2 linked regions of the Homo sapiens genome follow. The protein of the gene in region 2 interacts with the protein of the main gene of each other region in a biochemical or structural test. Each region holds a gene or a part of one and is shown on either strand. Other genes may lie near its edges.

Region 1 (7,029 bases), on a different chromosome or scaffold from region 2:
AACTAAATAAAAATAATAATCAAAGTCAAAGCAACACACATCACTATAAAAACTTAGATCAGAAATAAAGAGAAAATCTTAAATATTTCCACAGAAAAAATAGGCCATGTGTAAACGACTGGGAATCAGAATGCCAAAGCACTTCAACAGAAACTCTCAAGAATAGAAGAAAACTGAGCAAAATTCTAAGTGAAAATAATTTTCAACTCCAATAACATAAACAATCAAGTAAATAAAAATGTAAAGAAATTCTCAAATATGCAATATGGATATATTTTTATTATAAATGTATCTTTATATACCTTGTCTGAGGGAGCCACTAGTATAGTGTCACCAAAACAAGGACATAAACTAAGAAAAAGGGAAAAAATGAAGATATGGGATCCAGGAAACAAAAGATCCAACACTGAAGGAGCCAAGAGGATTCCAGGGTTGTGGTGAAGAAAGAGTCCAGTCATAACAGTTGTGACTAAAGAGCTACCACTCCAGATGGGAACAGGTGGATAGAAAGTTCCTAAGATATGCCTCTGGGAAATAAATGGAACTGATAGATTATCTTATAAGCCTGATCAAAGAACATTAGACTGAAAGGTGTTTTACAAAGTTGTTGGAAGACATCAGAGGACAATAGTAGATTCAAAGAAAGCAAAACAAAATGAGAGGATGAGGATAAAGGAGGGTGAAGTAAACAAGAAACAAATCCTTAACTCGCATAAAAGAAAGTTAATACTGCCAGGCTCGGTGGCTCACGCCTGTAATCCCAACACTTTGGGAGGTCAAGGCGGGCCGATCCCCCGAGGTCAGGAGTTCGACACCAGCATGCCAATATGGCGAAACCGCATCTCTACTAAAAATACAAAAATTAGCCGGGTGTGGTGGTGGGCGCCTGTAATCCCAGACACTCAGGAAGCTGAAGCAGAGGAATCGCTTTAACCTGGGAGGTGGAGGTTGCAGTGAGCTGAGATCACGCCACTGCACTCCAGCCTGGGCAACAGAGTGAGGCTCCGTCTAAAAAAAAAAATTGAAAACTGCTGAATTAAAAAGATAGCAGTTGGCTGGGCATGGTGGCTCATGCCTGTAATCCCAGCACTTTGGGAGGCCAAGGCGGGCAGATCACCTGAGTTCGAGACCAGCCTAACCAACATGGAGAAACCCCATCTCTACTAAAAATACAAAATTAGCCGGGCGTGGTGGCACATGCCTGTAATCCCAGCTACTAGGGAGGCTGAGGCAGGAGAATCACTTGAACCTGGGAGGCGGAGGTTGTGGTGAGCCGAGATCACTCCACTGCACTCCAGCCTGGGCAACAAGAGCAAAACTCTGTCACAATAAAAAAAAAAAAAAAAAAAAAAAAGATAGCAGTAGGCCAGGCGCAGTGGCTCGTGCCTGTAATCCCAGCAGTTTGGGAGGCCGAGGCAGATGGATCACCTGAGGTCAGGAGTTCGAGACCAGCCTGGCCAATATGGTGAAACCCCGTCTACACTAAAAATCCAAAAATTAGCCAGGCGTGGTGGTAGGCGCCTGTAATCCCAGCTATTAGGGAGGCTAGGGCAGGAGAATCACTTGAACCTGGGAGACAGAGGTTGCAGTGAGCTGAGATTGTACAACTGCACTCCAGCCTGGACAACAGAGTGAGAGTTCATCTCAAAAAAAAAGAGATGGCAGTACATGCTTATTACTTAGAAATAAGGAGATCAGAAACAGTGAAGAGTTACCTCAGCAAAGAATTGCAAGAGCTCTCTTTTCCACACTCACCAAGCAGAAATAAAAATAGGAATAACAGTAATGAAACATACCTCACATTCTAAAAAGTATTGCAACTGTGTTAGAAATACATTTTTTGCCGGGTGCGGTGGCTCATGCCTGTAATCCCTGCACTTTGGGATGCCGAGGCAGGTGGATCACTGAGGTCAGGAGATCAAGACCATCCTGGCCAATATGGTGAAACCCCGTTTCTATCAAAAATACAAAAAAGTAGCTGGGCGTGGCAGCATGCACCTGTAGTCCCAGCTACTCGGGAGGCTGAGGCAGGAGAATTACCTGAACCCGGGAGGTGGAGGTTGCAGTGAGCCGACATCGCACCACCGCACTCCAGCCTGGGCGACAGAGCGCGACTACGTCTCAAAAAAAAAAAAAAGAAAAGAAAATAAATACATTTTTTCTGTAAGAGACTGGGTCTTACTACATTGCTCAGGCTACCCTTGAACTCCTAAGTTCAAGCAATCCTCCTGACTCAGTCTCCCAAGTAGCTGGGACCACAGGTGTGCACCACTGTACCTGGCTTGAGATACATTTTTTTGACTGCAAATTTTAGGCCAAAATGTTACAACAATTAAAAATATGATATGATTGCTTCCCAGCCTTTTGGCTGAGATCAAGTGTAAAAATATGGTGTGTGAGGACTAAAAAGGGGGAGTGGAAATCACCTTTTTAAGCACCTTCATGGCAAATATTTTCCCAGTATTTGCTCCTGTTACTTTTCGTACTTGAAAAACCTGGATTAAAAAAAAGTGTGTGTTATTCAAAGGCAAACTATGTCAGGCATACTCCCTTAATTCCTAGTTATAAGAAACATATGCCACAGCAGTTTATATTATAAAAACTATGTGCAAAAATGATCAGCTAAAAGAACAGACCACATTAATGATCATGACTTTCCTGTTTGTTCTGCTGCCATCTGGTGGTAATGTTGGACAATGACCATCTAATAATAAACACTGTTACTTTATATTAATATATAAAATCCTACTTAGAACAAGCTATAAACAGTGTTCCCAGAGGCATAATACCACCTTAAAAATTATAAAATATTTCATAAATTTCTTTCAAGGTTGCTTGCCACTGCCCTTGCTTCACATAAAACTATTTAAAAATAGTTGGCAGTAAAAATTATAAAATATTTCATAAATTTCTTTCAAGGTTGCTTGCCACTGCCCTTGCTTCACATAAAACTATTTAAAAATAGTTGGCAGGAAATTACTGTTTACCTATTACTTAAAATAGTTTGTACTAATACTTGGCCCTCTGAATCTACAGGTTCAGCAGCCGTGGATTCAACCAACCGCAGAATGAAAATATTTGGGGGAAAAAACAATAAACAATACAAACAATAAAAAATAACACAAATATGGCCAGGTGAGGTGGCTCACAACTGTAAACCCGGCACTTTGGGAGGCCAACTCGGGTGGATCACCTGAGGTCAGGAGTTCAAGACCAGCCTGGCCAACATGGTGAAACCCCATCTCTACTAAAAATACAAAAATTAGCCGGATGTGGTGGCGCACACCTGTAATCCCAGCTACTCGGGAGACTGAGGCAGGAGAATCGCTTGAATCTGGAAGGCAGAGGTTGCAGTGAGCTGAGATCGTGCCACTGCACTCCAGCCTGCGGGAAAGAACGAGACTCTGTCTCAAAAATCATAAAAAATAAAATAAAAAATTAAGCATATGGGAGGATGTGTGTAGCTTATATGCAAATACTATGCCATTTTATATAAGGCACTTGAGCGTCGGCAGATTTTGTTATCTGCAAAGGTCTTGGAATCAGTTCTCCCTTACCCCTCCCCCATACTGAAAGACAACTATAAACATTTTCATGCAACACCTAAAACATGTGAGATTCAAAGTGCATGTGTTGCACATTCAGGATGATTAGAAATTACAATGTGTTCTTAAGCATAAGAATAGGCTACAAATGTCTGCTTTGCAAAAATTAACACTACACAATAGCAAAAATAATTCTTAAAACTTAATACTAACCAAGTTATTATCTAAATTATTTTGATAAGAGAATAGTTTGGTAAAAAGTTTTGTGGGCAGAACTCATAAAAGTGACGTCTTAAGTTGTAAAGCCTTGGGCAAAACTGTGAAACTAAATAGTTTTCTTCCCCCTTTTTATATTCCTTCAGCTTCCCCAATTCTATTGCTCCAGAAAACCAGTTGAGATTAAGGTCTCAGTAACAGATAACAACTCAGACTGCCATGTCTCTTGTAAGCAAGGAGGGCTTTATTTTTAAAGAGGATACCATTTAACCAAAGTAAAGAATGAACCCTTTAATAATAGACTTTGCCTGGTACAGTTGTCTATTTATGTATTCTATGAACCTTGACTGAGTACCTATTATGTGCCAGGCTTTTACATGTGTGGTGGTATGAAAAGAAGGGAAAACTGAACTTCTGTACATCCCTCAAACATACCAGCTAAGTGGTCATGATCACATCCTTTGCTGATAGCTGACAAAGACTGAAGATGACTGCTGGAACCAGGGCATAAAAATCAATCTATTCAAGACAGACAACAGCTCTCATTTCAAAAATATTGCCTACCTTTCCATAGCCCCCTTTACCAAGTACCCGAAGTAGCTCAAAACATTCTGGTCTGATTTTTTCTGGCCCTCTGTTCACACTAGTTTCTGAGATTTCAAATTTCTCACAATGTTCCATGCCACTGGGAAGAAAAGCAAAACCAAAAATAAATTTGCAAAAAGTTAAATTACTTTCAGCATATAGTCAAGAAAAAGGAGACAGAGAAATGTAATCTAAGTAAGTAAAAGTAAAAAAGTACATGACACCAAATTATTTGTGCTCTAAACAAACAGAACAGCAGGTCAAGAGGAGGGTGGCCTGATAATCGTTTGCCTCCTTGTTCATAGAATGGGCAATCAATTATTTACTTATTTTTATAATTGTTTATTTTATGCATAAAGGGGTACTATGGTTTTTCATTGGGTAGATGCCTTGGATAATCCATTCAAGTAAGATCACTTAGTCCAACTTAATGAAATCTATATCCTTCGTTTACTGATAGAAACACTGGCGCACATATTGAGGCCGTATTTCTGGATCAGACCTTGCCAGTTTGAGCAGACACAACAAGAGCAAGAACCCTGATTGAATTTTCATGGGTGACTCCAATACAGCTGCTGGTGACCCATCTTGCTCTTAGGAGTGCAACAAAGTAAAAGAAGACAATTATTTATTTTCATAAGCATCAAGCACCCCAAAGCTAAGGTAAGTTAGAAAAAGTTCATTAAGTTGACAAAGAAAAAAAGTCTTGCAGTTATTCAAATTTACTTCATTGAAAATATCTATGAAATTAGGTATTATCCAACCTCATTTGGCAATGTCAGCAGAAAATCAGGGATCTTTCCAAAACTACCCAATTAGTTCACATCATAGTACAAAACTTCTTCTCTGTATCTGTTTTTTCAAGTTATTAGCTTGATTTAAAGAATCCAATGGGCGTGGTGGCTCATGCCTGTAATCCCAGCACTTTGGGAGGCTGAGGTGGGCGGATCACTTGAGGTCGAGAGTTCAAGACCAGCCTGGCCAACATGGTAAAACCCTGTCTCCACTAAAAATACAAAAATTCCAGCCTAGCCAACATGGTGAAACCCCGTCTCTATTAAAAATACAAAAATTAGCTGGGCGTGGTGGCAGGAACCTATAATCCCAGCTACTCAGGAGGCTGAGGCAGGAGAATCACTTGAACCTGGGAGGCAGAGGTTGCAGTGGGCCGAGATCATGCCATCACACTCCAGCCTGGGAACAAGAGCGAGACTTTGTCTCAAAAAAAAAAAAAAAAAAAAAAAACCCAACAAAAATTAGCCAGGTGTGGTGGTGCGCTCCTGTAGTCCCAGCTACTTGGGAGGCTGAGGCAGGACAATCGCTTGAACCCAGGAGGTGGAGGTTGTGGTGAGCCGAGATTGTGCCACTGCACTCCAGCCTGGGTGACAGAGGGAGACTCCATCTCCAAAAAAATAAAAATAAAGAATCCAAAAGGGGTAGCAATTGTCTCTGTCATTTAAATGCTTTCTACATGAGTGATCTATCTTCTCATTCTCCTCCTACACTAATGCTTTTTACTTGAGAGTACAATACAGAGCAGATTAATCACCATACTCACCTAATGGAGCTTGTCTAAAATGACTTAAGATTACATGAATTTCTTTTTTGTTGTTGCTGTTGAGACGGAGTCTCGCTATGTCGCCCGGCTAATTTTTGAATTTTAAGAAGAGACGGGGTTTCGCCATGTCGGCCAGGCTGGTCTCGAACTCCTGATCTCAAATGACCCGCCCACCTTGGCCTCCCAAACTGCTGGGATTACAGGTGTGAGCCACTGTGCCCAGCCGGATTGCATGAATTTCTGTTTGAATGACTGTATGAATTTCTGTTTGTATATTTAAGCAAAACAGAAAGCATTTGACTTTTTGAGGCATTTCTACAAATTTTTCTGTAAGAAAAGATTAAAACTGTGGCTCTTTAAACTAACAACTCAGATTCATATTTAGTACTCTGAATCTGAATTAATATCTTTTCCTCAAAATCCATACATAATCTCAAAACTCTGATAGGTTATATTGATCAGATTTTGGTGCCAAATTCAATACATCGAGTTGATAAATATGACTACATATTTAAGAACAGGTTACAGGAATCACATGATTGCTACGAAATAGAACTGATAAAACCTACTTGTAAGAAAGACAACACAATGAAAATCTCTTCATATAAACTTACAGTTCATATGGTCCAACTCCCCCATGGTCCATGCTTTCATTTAACTGACCCTGAAAAATATGTTAAAAGTTTCAGAAATAATCTAATAAACATAAAATTTAAAGGTTTAATTCTTTGTCTCATAACTGAAAGAGAATGAATGAAATAAACCAGCCTAACAATTCTCTTATACTTCAACAACAGGCAAATATGGTAATGAACAAAACACAGTACACAAACAACACTATGGGAATTTCACTCTAAATTATTTTACAAATAGAGATGAGGTCTTTCTATGTTGCCCAGACTGGAATGCAGTCAATAGCTATGAAGGGGTATGATCATAGCATACCAGAGCCTTAAACTCCTCAAGTGATTCTTCTGCCTCAGCGTTCCAAGTAGCTGGGACTATAGGCACCCGGGTTTTTTTTTTTTTTTTCTTTTTTGAGATGGAGTCTCACTCTGTCACCCAGACTGGAGTGCAGCGGTGCCATCTCAGCTCACTGCAACCTCCGCCTCCCAGGTTCCAGTG
Region 2 (6,355 bases):
CGTATCAACTATTTGAATAAAGTCCTATCTCTTCCTACCTTTAGTAAAGGAAATTAAGTTCAGATCTTTCACATCTTAGAGTAAACCTTATCTAGCCTATCAGTTTATCTAAATTTACTTTATCTATTTAACAGATTTACCTTACATGTTTTAACAAATGCTGTTATTTAGAATTAGCAAACATGGGAGAAACTAAAATTAATTAGGAACCACACAAGTTTTGATGAAAAGAAAACAAAACAAAGTACTAGCGGATCTCTTGTTCATAACTTGAGACATCTCCTGAGTAGTCTAGCTTAAGTAAATAGCAAACCATGGCAATCTTTCCCCCCAAAACTCAGCAAAAGGCCTTCACAAGGCATTTTGATCACATAAACTCCAATTTTGTCTAAGTAATCCAAGACATTCATAGGAAAACCTGAAGACTCCCCGAGCTAGTCTACTAGATTTATTTTTCCCAGAACACATGAAACTTAACATTTCCTTTTTTTCTTTTTTTTTTTTTGGAGACGGAGTCTCGCTGTCTTCCATGCTGGAGTGCAGTAGTACGATCCCGGCCCACTGCAGCCTCCGCCTCCCGGGTTCAGTTGATTCTCCTGCCTCAGCACCCCAAGTAGCTAGGATTACAGGCCCCCGCCAACCTGCCTGGCTAATTTTTCATTTTTTTGAGACGGAGTCTCACTGTCTTCCACGCTGGAGTGCAAAGGCACGATCTCGGCTCACTGCAACCTCCGCTTCCCGTCAAGCGATTCTCCTGCCTTAGCCTCCCGAGTATCTGGGACTACAGGTGCCTGCCACCACGCCCGGCTAATTTTTGTATTTTTTGTAGAGGTGGGGTTTCACCATGTTGGCCAGGCTGGTCTCGAACTCCTGACCTCGTGATCCGCCCGCCTCGGCCTCCCAAAGTGCTGGGATTACAGGCGTGAGCCACCGCGCCCGGCCAATATTTCCATTTTTGTGGTGAAGTTATACGCAACATGACCAAATCTTAGTTGGTGAGGGAGGTAAAAGACCCTTAAGGGCAAGAAGAGGTTAGAACTTTCAAATTTATGCCCCTCTGGTGGTGCAATGCAGAGATTTCCCTCATATTTCCGGGGAATTTCCCTCGAATTTCGTTTCCCACCCTGTGAAAGCAGCAAGGTTAGGAAAGCGGGGGCGGGGCGGGGGCGGGTAGTTTTGATTAAAAGGAAGGAAAAGAAAAACAGAGAAAAGCAAAAGGGGAAAATAAACTGAGCCTACTGAGGAGATGCGGCGACGGCGACAGTTTCCCGGGGCTGCTCAGCGCCTTGGGGCCTACAGGAGACGCGGGAGCACGCCCCCGGCGGCGCCGGCCTCGAGCGGTGTCACGGAGTTGTAGTGCTCGCCGAGGCTGTAGGCATAGCGCAGGTAGACCAGGATGATCGGCTTCTTGACGTACTCCTCCCCGATGATCAAGGTGGGCGAGTCGGCCTGGATCACCTCGATGGGGGTCTTCAGGACGTGCGACAGGGCCCTCAGCTCCAGCTGGCCTCCCCATGCCGTGGTGCGCACGATGTTGTCGCAGTAGATCATGAAGTCGTCGTAGCCGAAGGAGTCGCTGGTCTCGGGGTTGCTGAAGAAGGGCAGGAACTCGTCGACGTGCTTCTTCATGTAGCTGGCGGTGCGGCAGCGCAGCATCTCCACAGACACGCTGAACACCAGCTGGTCTTGGATGGCGCGGTACATGCAGTGGCCGTCGGCCGGGATCGCTTTCATCTCCAGACCCCTGGCTCCCAGGATGGCGGCGAGCTTCTCCTCCTCCTCGCGCTTGAAGCCGGCCAGGTGCTCCGACATCTCAGCCTGGAAGATGCTCTCCTGGCGCTCCCTCTCCTCGGACTCCATTCTTTCTCTCTTTCTGTGGGCTTTGGAGGAGCGGGGAGGCCGGTTTTCCAGATTCATCTTGGCCAGGTCTTCGACGACAGATTCAATGCTACTGTCGTCTTGGAACTTCTCCAGCTCCTGCCGGTGCTTCTGAGCCATCTCGGCCTCCATGCGGGCCACGTCTTGGAGCAACTGCTTTCTTTTCGTCTTGTCGGTCTTGGGGACCGAGTTTTTTAAGCTCCGGATCTGGGCCTGCAGCTCCTGCCTCTCGCGTTGGTGGCGGCGCAGTATGCGCTGCTGTTCACTCTTCGGATCATCCATGATGTTGAATGGCAAGCGGGAGTTGAAATTTGCTGGCAGTTCAAGTACCGAACAGACCAGAAGTCCTCAGCCTGTCCTAACGGTCGCTCTCTTTCACCTCACCGGCTCTAACCGCCGCTCTAGGCTCACCTCAGCCTCCGCTTCCCCTCCCCCATTCGCATTCTTCTCTGCCTTTGGTCACTGTGTCTCCATGGCCACGCCCCCGCAAGTGCTAGGCCACTTGCTGGGCCACCCGCAAATGCCCAGTGCTAGGATTGGCTGTTGGGAGACCGGAAGTATGAGCCCATTGGACCCCACAGCAAAGGTTTTTGGCGGGATTCAAATATGGCCTTCCTGCAATGTGTGTGGCAGTTGGGCCTGTAGAGTCTTTCGCTGATTGAGAGCCGACTTCATTTCCAAGTCTGCACACAATGCAGGCAGTAGCCATGCCTGACAGCCACATGACAGATACTACACCGCTGAATGTGCTCTAACCCTGGACTTGGCATTGCCCCTACTGTTGAGGAAGCAGTGCGTTTTTCTCCAGTCTTTCAGGTCCCTTCACCAGGGAACCATTAACTTGTGCATCAGAACAAGGACATTTCCTTACATTCCTGCAAACACAGTCCTTTCAGTTTACTCTTTTTTTGAGGGGGGGGCGCGGGGAACGGAGTCTCGCTCTGTCGCCCAGGCTGGAGTGCAATGGTGCAATCTCAGCTCACTGCAACCTCTGCCTCCCAGGTCCAAGCGATTCTCCTGCCTCAGCCTCCCGGGTAGCCGGGACTACAGGCGCCTGCCACCACGCCCGGCTAATTTTTGTATTTTTAGTAGAGACGAGGTTTCGCCGTGTTGGCCAGGCTGGTCTTGGAACTCCTGACCTCAGGTGATTTACTCGCCTCGGCCTCCCAAAGTGCTGGCATGAGCCACTGTGCCCAGTCACAAGTTTTTATTTTAGCCATTTTGATAAGTGTGAAGTTCCCTGATGGCTAATGATGTTCCTTTTTTCATGTGCTCATTTGTCATCTATGCCATATCCTTTTCAGTAAAATGTTTATGTCATTTGCCTATTTTCTCTCTCTTTTTTTTGGGGGGGGTGGAGTCTAGCTCTGTCACCGAGGGTGGAATGCAGTGGCGTGATCATGGCTCATTGCAGCCTCAAACTCCTGGGCTCAGGCTCAGGTGATCCTCCTGCCTCAACATCCTGAGTAGCTGGGACTACAGGCACCACCATACTTGGCTAATTTTGGGGAATTTTTTTTTTTTTTTTTTTTTTGCCAGATGCGGTGGCTCACGCCTGTAATCCCAGCACTTTGGGAGGCCAAGGTGGGAGGATGTCTTGAGGTCAGGAGTTCCAGACCAGCCTGGGCAACATGGTGAAGCCCTAACTCTACTAGAAATACAAAAATTAGCCAGGTGTGGTGGTGTGTGCCTGTAGTCCCAACTACTCCTGGGGGCTGAGGTGGGAGGATAGCTTGAGCCTGGGAAGCAGAAGTTGTAGTGAGCCAAGATAGCGGCACTGCACTCCAGTCTGGGCTCAAGTGGTCCTCCACCTCTGCCTTCCAAAGTGCTGGGATTACAGATGTGAGACACCATGCTCAGCCCTTCATTTGCCTATTTTCTTTCTCTCTCTCTCACTCTCTTTCTTCCTCTCTCTCTCTCTCTTACTCTCTTTCTTCTTCCTTCCTTGGTTTCCTTCCTTCCTTTTTTTTTCTTTTTTTTTTTGAGACGGAGTCTTGCTCTGTCACCCAGGCTGGAGTGCAGTGGCATGATCTCGGCTCACTGCAGCCTCCAGCTTCTGGGTTCAAGCAAGTCTCATGTCTCAGCCTCCTGAGTAGCTGGGACTACAGGCGCACACCACCACACCCGGATACTTTTTGTATTTTTAGTAGAGACAGGGTTTCACCATGTTGGCCAGGCTGGTCTTGAACTCCTGAGTTCAAGCGATCCCCCTGCCTTGGCCTCTCAAAGTGCCGGGATGACTACACACACCACCATATCCAGCTAACTTTTTTTTTTTTTTTTTTTTTTTTACTTTTTGTAGAAACGGGGCCTCACTATGTTGCTCAGGCTGGTTTCGAACTCCTGGGCTCAAGCGAGCCTCTCACCTCAGCCTCCCAAAATGCTGAGATTACAGGCGTGAGCCACCGCGCCTGGCCAGGATTTTTGTAGGAATCGTGTTCAAGCTGAATATCAATTTGGGGAGAATTGACATCTTTACTATGTTGAGTCTTCCAGTCCTTGAACACCTGGGTATGTATCTCCATTTACGTAGATCTTCATTGATTTCTTTCAGTGACACTGCATGATTTTCAGCATATAAATCCTGTGCATATTTTGTTAGATTTACACTTAAGCATTTCTCTTTTTTTGAGTGATTGTAAATGGTATTGTATTTTTATAATGTGAACATTTACAATGTTCACATGGTCATTGCTAGTATATAAAAATACAATTGACTTTTTTTGTTTATCTTGTGTTCTGTGACCTTGCTTAACTAGCTAATTATTTCTAGGAGGTTTTTTCCCCCCTTGATTCCTTGGAATTTTCTATGTAGGCAATCATGTCATCTGTGAATAGGGACAGTTTTATTTCATCCTTTCCAGTAAGTATGTCTTTTATTTCCTTTTCTTGCCTTATAGTGCTGATTAGAACTTCCAGCACTATGTTGGATAAGAGTGGCAAGGGCAGACATCCTTGTTTTGATCTTGATTTTAGGAGGAAAAGAATTTCATCTTTCACTGATAAGTATGATGTTAGCTGTAGGATTTTGTAAATGTTATTTATCTAGTTGAGGCCTTTCCCATCTATTCCTATTTTTCTGAGAGTTTTTGACATGAATGGGTATTAAATGTTGTCAATGTTTTTTCTGTATTGATATGCCAATATGATTTTTCTTCTATAACCTATTAATATGATAGACTATAGTGATTGATTTTTAAGTATTAAGCTAGTCTTGCATTTCAGAAATCAACCTGATTTGGTCATAGTTTATCATTATTTTTATATGTTGAGGAATTCTTTTGGTAATTTAAAAAAGGATTAAAAAAAATCTATGTTCATGAGAGGTATTGGTCTGCAGTTTTCTTTTTTGGTACTGTTTTGTTTAGTTTTAGTGTCAGGGTAAATACTAACTTCACAAGAAGAGGAGGGAAGTGTTCCTTCCTCTTCTATTTTTTTGGAAAGAGATTGTGTAAAATCAGTAATAATTCTTCTTTAAACATTTGATAGGATTCTCCAGTGAAACCATCAGGGCCAAGAGATCACTTTCTTGGGAGTTTTAAAATTAAAAAAAAGTTTTCCTTAATAGGACTAATCAAATTATATATTTCATATTGAGTGAATTTTGGTAGCTTGTGTTTTTTGAGGAATTGGTCCATTTATTCTGAGTAGTCAAATTTATGTGTGCAGAATTATTTGTAGTATTCCATTTTTATTGTTTGATGTTGGGAGGATTTATAGTGGTATTCCCTGCTTTATTGGTAATTTGTGTTTCCTCTTTTGTTCTTTGTCAGTCTTGCTAAAGATTTGTCAATTTTATTGATCTTTTCAAAGAACTAGCATGTTGTCTTATTGATTTTCCCCATTGATTTTCTGTTTTAGATTTCATTAGTTTATGCTATTTATTATATTCTTCCTTCTGCTTGCTTTGGGTTTAGTTTGCTCTTCTTTTGCTAGGTTCTTGAGGTGGGAGCTTGAATAATTGCTTTCAGACTTTTTCTCTTTTTCCAAAGTATACGCTTAGTGATATAAACTTCCTTCTCAGTACTACTTTAACTGGTTCTCCCATGTTTTGATATGTTTAGTTTTCATTATCCTTCAGTTCAATGTACTTTTTGGTTTTCCTTGAGACTTTTTGGCCCATGGATTATTTACAAGTGAGTTATTAGCTTCCAAGTGTTTGTAGGTTTTCCTGTTATCTATTAATGATTTCTACTTTGATTCTGATATGGTTTGGGTCTGTGTCCCTGCCCAAACCTCATGTTGAATTGTAATACCCTCTGTTGGAGGCGGGGCCTGTGGGAGGTGATTGGATCATGGGGGGCAGATTTCTCATGAGTGGTTTAGCACCATCCTCTTGGTACTGTCCTTGAGATTGTGAGTGAGTTCCTGTGAAATCTAGTTGTTCAAAAGTGTGTGGCACCTCCCCTCATCTCTTTCTTGCTCCTTCCTCCATGATTGGAAGTGTCCTGAGATCTCCCTAAAAAGCAGAAGCTGC

What was found. The genes of interacting proteins can lie anywhere in the genome.
Region 1: of the proteins of OTUD6A (region 2) and RPS6KB1, one has a biochemical effect on the other in vitro, tested with the Homo sapiens proteins (one study listed by BioGRID).

What each region holds. Positions count from the first base shown.
Region 1 is NC_000017.11:59,910,101-59,917,129, reverse strand, and holds part of RPS6KB1 (ribosomal protein S6 kinase beta-1), read right to left. Parts: intron 6,569-7,029; coding exon 6,519-6,568; intron 4,447-6,518; coding exon 4,326-4,446; intron 2,496-4,325; coding exon 2,427-2,495; intron 1-2,426. UniProt on the Homo sapiens protein: Serine/threonine-protein kinase that acts downstream of mTOR signaling in response to growth factors and nutrients to promote cell proliferation, cell growth and cell cycle progression.
Region 2 is NC_000023.11:70,058,330-70,064,684, reverse strand, and holds OTUD6A (OTU domain-containing protein 6A), read right to left. Parts: upstream 2,229-6,355; 5' UTR 2,161-2,228; coding exon 1,294-2,160; 3' UTR 506-1,293; downstream 1-505.